2 linked regions of the Homo sapiens genome follow. The protein of the gene in region 1 purifies or fractionates together with the protein of each later gene. This does not show direct contact. Each region holds a gene or a part of one and is shown on either strand. Other genes may lie near its edges.

Region 1 (3,500 bases):
TGCTAAACCATGTGTAGTCTTGAGGTCTGAAGCTTCTTGACTTCTCCCTAACTAGTTCAAACCTCTCTGACAGATGTACCTGTGGAATCCTGTGCCTCTGTTTGTTGCACTCAGCTTAACTGGGGTGTGATTATTTTAATGCCTGTCTCTCCTAATAGAGTGTAAGCTTCTTAACATACTGCCTGTTTTTGTTTTTTACTACTGCATTACCAGTGGCATGCACAGTGACAGGTGCATAGAATGGTGGAATGAATGAACAAACCTCACTGGGCTCATGAAACAAGGACAGGGTGACAGATTGGAGACACTGTGCATTTAACCCTTGTTTGTCATTGTTAAAGCCAACCAGGTTCTACTGTTGTAATTGTTCACTGTCCAGCCAGCACTGTATGCAATAACTTTATTAACATCAAATAGATATCACAATACAGTTTTATCCAACGGGATTCAGAAACTGGTTACAGATATCATCTAAGACACAAGGCTGTTTTGTGCTAAAATGCTTCCAACATCACTAATCACGCAACGAGTTTATACATCAATAACAACTTTTATCTGGAAATACAGATGCTCAGCTTGCCCTCTCTATTGGGTCCTGGTGTTTCAGCTGAGTTAAAACGAGGAAGTGACGATTGACATTTTCTTGATAATGAATACATTCTGGAGAATATTTCATGAGAACTCTCTTTGGGGTACAGAGTGGCATATGGAAGCCATTTTTAATTTAGGGGCTACACTAAAATCAGAATTAGTAAGTTTAGCTGTGACTTGAGAATTTTTAATAATTACATTGAGGAGCATATTAGCTTTACAAATAAACAGGATTTAAAAATATAGCTGGTAGTAGAGGTTCTACAGAATATTCTTTATAAATAAATACTTCAGCAAGGCGGTACCTTGACTATGGTATCTATATCTGCATCTCCATTATTCTAAGAAAACAACACTCCATAAACACAAAGAGTTATTGGGCCGTGTTATTTATGGTCCACAAGATAAGAGCCACAAAACACCATAGAAGGTTACAAGAATGCAAATATTTAGCTAAGTAAATAGAATAAATATTGGGCAGTTATCATATGTAGCACTAAATGTTTACTAATGGGGGAAAAGAAAAACTTAAATTTTAATTACAATGCATTCAGAACTTGGGTAAAGCCAGAGAGACAAATTTGCAAAGTATACAAAGTAGTGAATATATTCCTATAAATATCCATTTGACAAATTCATGGTGCAAACCAGAAAATTTTCATAAACACAGTTCAAATGTTCATTGTGTGGGAAAATGCTTATTCATGCACTTAAATCATATGATTTATCACATAAAAAAAGAATAATTTTCTGAAACAAATAACTTAGAGACTCATAGTCCTATAGGACTTAAAACTAAAAAAAAATAAGACATGCATGTTGTGATACACCAAATTGTCTTCTAGAAATTATTATAACATCTTTCACATCAAAATGCATAAGAAAACTCAACGCTATTTGATTTACTTTATGCATATTACATACTAGAGACTTTAAGCTACAAAATACTTCTACTACTTTAACATACATACAAAATGACCATGAAAGTATCTGTATATATAACAAGGTACTCTCCAATTAGCCATCTATGATGAATAATATATCTCCTCATGTCGCCTCATCTCTAAGTATCATTTTTCACAACCCAGGACTTGCTGCCTTAATGAAGACTAGAGAGCTCTGATTTACATTCAATACTCTCTGCATTAATAATTGATTGAAACCCTTAAAAAATTCTTCTGCCACTGAAATGGAAGATGGTGAGGCGACTGCAGAAGAATGCAAATGCTACTCTGTTAAATCTGATTGGTAAAGGAAGTGGGGCCAGTAGGCTGTTGGCCAAACTCATCTGAGGTTGGCCCCAAACTCGCCTGCTGACTGTACCCACTGCTTGATCCATAGCTGTCTTGGTTGTAACCACCTTGATTATAGCTGCTGGAGTGCTTCTCCATTGGATCTGAAAGATATCTCTGTCCCGAAGAATGCCAGCCGGTCTCCTTGAAAACAAACCATATGTTTCCAGCCCAGAGAATAAAGTTCAAGAATCCAAAGACCTGAAGGAGAATCAAAGCCAATGAATTGATAGACTAGACAAAAACCCAAGAAAAATTTCAATTTTGGAAAAATCCTTCACAATACAAAAGATCACTTTTCACTTTAATGTTGAGTCCGCTTCCAAGTTTTCCATTTGGAACCGGTATTTCATTTAGAATATTTGACCTTTATTAGACGCACTACATGTCAGGCACTACATAAAGGGCTTTATGTGTATCAATTCACTTGCTCTAAGAATCAGTCTAGGAAAAAGTTGCTATTGTCATACCCACATTAAAGATGTGGAAAGCTTGTCTAAGGTCGCGTGGCTTGCTGAGTAGTAGATCTGTGATCCAAACTCTCTTCTGGTTCCATAACTGGAAACCTTACTTAAGGCATCACTTATTCTCCAAATAAAGTATCCTTCATGGTGTGTAAGATTATTTCCAGATGGCACAGGGTTGAGAATTTTCACTTTAATAATGGTGCATTCATTTATAAGGCTATCTTCTCTTTATGGTTAGAGATACTGCTTTTGCTTTTCCATTTGTTGTAATCATATAAAGAAAGTGAGTCAATTAAAAATATAGGGTAAGCAATGGTACAGGTGATATGCAAATAAGCATATGCATGATAGCATATTGAGAGGTTGACTGTTCGAATAATTGCACTTTCTGTGCCTCTCACAGGGATAAGTGAATGTTGAAACCAGACTGTGAATAAAGTGCAGGTTTCAGAGAAGTATAAAATATTTTCTTAAGAACTGGATGTGAAACTTTCCTATGGAAATTCCTCTTACTCTCCAGGAGGGTGTCAGTGAGCCAGAGGACTGGGTGTCGCCTCCCCAGGGCCTCAGGTTTGATGGAAGCAGAACGGTTTGCTATTGCATGAGGCCCGAACAGAAGTCCTCATTCCATGACTTGTTCTGCAGCCTTTTCCAAGGCTGGTTGATTGACTTGGGAATTAACTACAGGCAGTCTGTTTTAACAGCCCCCTAATGGAGACAGGTAACAGTAGTATAACGCAAAGCTGTGATAACATTAAAGTATATTTAGTCATCACCCCCTAGCGTGACGCTGACCAATCAAAATGGACTTGGGCAGTGGCCACGGTCCTGGAGTAGGGTGCTGGAAGTCCTTTGCTGGGTCAATATCTATCCCTTAGTTTCTGGACAGTGAGATGATCCACAGTGGCCTGTGGGTAGTGGTGGCAGAGGGGGCACTGGTGTAGTCAAGAAGCTGGGCCTTGGAGACTTGGATCTGAGACTATCAAAATATTTCAATATTTTAGCAGCACATGAATGGAATCTTAGGCTTGGAGAAATCTCTATAGGCTTTGAAATCAAAGGCACCCTGGGGACTGTACTTTCTTGCCCTGCTACCTGGGACAAGGCATTTAGTCTGTAGACTTCATTTTTGTTTTTGTTTTGTTTCTTG
Region 2 (3,500 bases), on another chromosome or scaffold:
TATTGGACACTGCTGTGCACTGAATATGTCCATCCCAGACCCATATGTTGAAGCCCTCACCTCCAGTGTGGCTGTATTTAGATAGGGCCTTGGGGAGGTCATTAAGGTTAAATGAGACCATAAGGTCGAGGCCCTAATCCAATAGGATTGGTGGCCCTAGAAGAAGGGGAAGAAAGAGAGAGACCTTTGAGAGACCGTTCTCCCTCTCTGCCTTGTGAGAACACGGCAAGAAAGCTGTCATATTCAAGGCAGGAAGAGGGCTCTCACCAGAACCTGGCCATACTGGCACCCTGATCTCAGACTTCCAGCATCCAGAACTGTAAGAAAATACATTTCTGCTGTCAAAGCCACCCAGACTTTGTTATGGCCGCCTGAGCTGACCAATACAGCTGCTCTGTGAAAAGAAGGCAGAGCATCAGGGAGACGGGCTCGACCTGCCTCTGCCACTGACTCAGTAAGGGGTTGGCCACCAGTCACGTAACCTCTTGGGGCTTCCCTCACCAAATCTGTGAAATGAGAATGGGGTTCAGCATCTCTAAGGGGCTCTTTGATTCATGTCATGGGGGAAAAAGAGTTCTTCCGTAGTGGAAGAAGCTGGGTAGGGAAGTGTATTATTTTGCTAGGGCTGTGGTAACAAAGTACTACAGGCTGGGTGGCTTGAGCAGAAGAAATTCATTGTCCCACAGTTCTGGAAGCTGGAAGTCCAAAAGCAAGGTGTTAGCAGGGCGGGCTCCATCTGAGGGCCAAGGGGGAGAATCTGCTCCAAGCCTCTCTCCCGGCTTCTGGTGCTTGCTGGCAATCTTTGGCATTCCTTGGCTTATAGACGTATCACCCCAATCTCTGCCTCCATCTCCATATGGCATTTCCCTGTGTGCATGTCTGTGCCCAAATTTCTCCCTTTTATAAAAAGGACATCAGCACATTGGATAGGGGCTCACCCTACTCCCATGGGACTTCATCCTAACTCATTACATTTGCAATGACCCTATGTCCAAATAAGGTGAGCTGGTTATAGCTAGAGGCGGAGAAGGGGGTGCCAGAAAAGACTGGGAGCCCTTAGTTGCTAAGCATTAAGAATCTGAAGAACAGAGTGGTCAAAAGGAATTGCTTGCCCAACCACTGGCGTTCTGAACTGCTCACCTCTCCCAGGAGACCGCCAGGATGGACTAGATGCTTCTGGCCTTTGTTATGATCTGTGGCCAGTGTGACTTCTCCCCAGCATGAATGACAAGGGCCCGGGCCACATGGGAATAAGGAAAGCAGTCATGCAGGTGTCACCAACGCGAAGTGACCCATGGAAGTAGCCAGTCAGGATGGGGGCCGGGAGGAAGTGGAGCCCTTCAGAAAGCCAGCTGGGGGCAGGGGCACCGAGGCAGGAGCAAGGGAAGGCAAGGCCCTAAGCTGTGGAGCTGGTGGCTTCCCAAACCTGCTGCAGAAACAGTTCCTAACCCCCACACTGTCTGCATCTCCCTGCAGGGTGAGAAGGGGGCTGAAGGCTCCCCTGGGCTTCCTGGCCTCCTGGGGCAGAAGGTAGGTGTTGCTCTGAATGGAGGGTTCAAGTCCTTCGTCACCCACATCCCATACCTGGCCCTGCACATCCACACAGGCCCCAGCATTGGACGTGTCTGTCTCCCAGACTGCAGGAAAGGCAGCTGGAACACAGCCAGATTCTGTTTGTCGAGGGAGAGGTGCCATAGGCAGGCCCTGATTGGCAAAAATAAAATGCCGAAATGTAAAGAATTCGGTAGTGATGACCTGGTCAGATTTCTTGGTACCAGCTCTGCAAATGCATCCCACAGTTCATGAACTCTGTAAGATATTTAATTTAAAAATTAAAAAAAAAAAGATGAGGCCAAAATAAGGGGAGACATGCATAATAAGATGGGACCCTTGGAAAGTCACAGTGCTCCTCAGCCTGTTAGAGGCCTGAGCACCCTGCAGTGATGGGGTCTGCAAAGCTTATTTAATGTTTCATTTCTTACATAGTTTGGCCACCAATAATAATGTTATTCCACATTTTGAATATTCTCAACCCACTGAACAGTGTTCCGTGGAATACACTTTGAGAAACACGGCTCCAGACCCAGTTTTGAAGGATCCCTTGTGTCAGCTCTAAACCTGCTGCCCTTCAGTAAACACTTCCAATCTCTCTTCAAATCCCACAGCTGGATCAGATAAATCTGGGATTCTGAAGGCCCCTGGTCCCCAGACATCCTGGGGCCCACACCCCATAGTGTCCCTCCAGTGCTCAGCCTAGACCTTCCTCCACACCAGGGATGCTAACTCCACCTTCCACCCCCAGGGAGAGAAAGGCGATGCTGGCAACTCCATTGGAGGAGGCAGAGGGGAACCTGGCCCTCCAGGGCTCCCTGGGCCCCCAGGGCCAAAGGTGAGTGTTCCCTGGAATTGGTGTTGGGGAGGTGCTTACCTGGGGACTTTGTCTTCAGCCTGTTCTCGGGGACTCTACGTCCCGGACATCCCGCCTTCTCTAGCCTTCCCCTGCTCCAGATGTGTGGTTTTCCCCATGGATTCCAAAAAGGCCATTTGGACCCAGCTCCTGCTTGCAAGCAGATAACAGTTTGACCTTTCAGAGGAGATGTCTTCCCTGGGGCAGATGGATGGTCCCAGTGATTCAGATGACTCTGATGTAACTGAGTCAGGGCGCAATGGCTGCAGGACCTTCATGGCTATGCTGTAACTGAGTCAAGGATTGATGGCTGCAGGACCTTGATGGCCATGCTGTAACTGAGCAAGGGACCAATGGCTTCAGGGCCTTAGGACAGGCAAGAGGCCCCCCACCTTGGCTCTGAGTAGGTTGCAGGTCAACTATCAGCTGGCCCCACCTGGTACCAGCACATCTGGTAGGTGGCAGCAGTGGAGGCAGCTGCAAATGGAAACTGCCCTCACTTTCCTTTTGCTGCTTGAAAAGTGCAATGGTAAGATTTGGGTTCCCCAAAGCAGATGGCTCCTATGTTGCTTGGTTTACTTTAGCAGCACTGAGAAATGAAGGGGGTCTGTTTCTTAGCTCAGAAGGAAAGCATGAATTACTCTACATCATCTGGGGCAATACACTCATTCATTCCGCCCATATCCACCTGCCATGGGCTGGGCTCTGTGTGGGCCTAGGAGGGCCTGGCAGGGCAGAGTGGACACCAGTAAAGGGTACAGAATGCAGGGAAGGAAAGCAGGAGTGGGCTTCCAGAGGAAGCAAGACCCAGGCTGGGCCCAAGCATGGGTAGGAGTCAGGGAGGTGGAAGAGTGGGAGGTGCAGAAGCCATCAGGGAAAGAGAAGTCCAAGGCAACATCTAGGCATGAGCGGCAAGACCATCTTTTCCCTCATAAGCAGCTGTCCAGGTGCCCAGCATGCCCTCATCCCAACTCTCTCCTCTTCCCCAGGGAGAAGCAGGTGTCGATGGCCAGGTTGGCCCCCCAGGGCAGCCAGGAGACAAGGTACAGAGACCCCCACATCCCAGAGCTGCAAGATGAGGGTCAGCTTGGGA

The links. The genes of interacting proteins can lie anywhere in the genome.
Region 2: the proteins of SYNPR (region 1) and COL13A1 purify together in Homo sapiens (affinity purification with mass spectrometry; one large-scale study listed by BioGRID and IntAct). This does not show direct contact.

Annotation. Positions count from the first base shown.
Region 1 is NC_000003.12:63,613,808-63,617,307, reverse strand, and holds the end of SYNPR (synaptoporin), read right to left. Parts: exon of another isoform or gene 2,134-3,500; intron 2,085-2,133; coding exon 1,827-2,084; 3' UTR 384-1,826; downstream 1-383. UniProt on the Homo sapiens protein: Intrinsic membrane protein of small synaptic vesicles. Probable vesicular channel protein.
Region 2 is NC_000010.11:69,920,406-69,923,905, forward strand, and holds part of COL13A1 (collagen alpha-1(XIII) chain), read left to right. Parts: intron 1-1,476; coding exon 1,477-1,530; intron 1,531-2,302; coding exon 2,303-2,389; intron 2,390-3,396; coding exon 3,397-3,450; intron 3,451-3,500.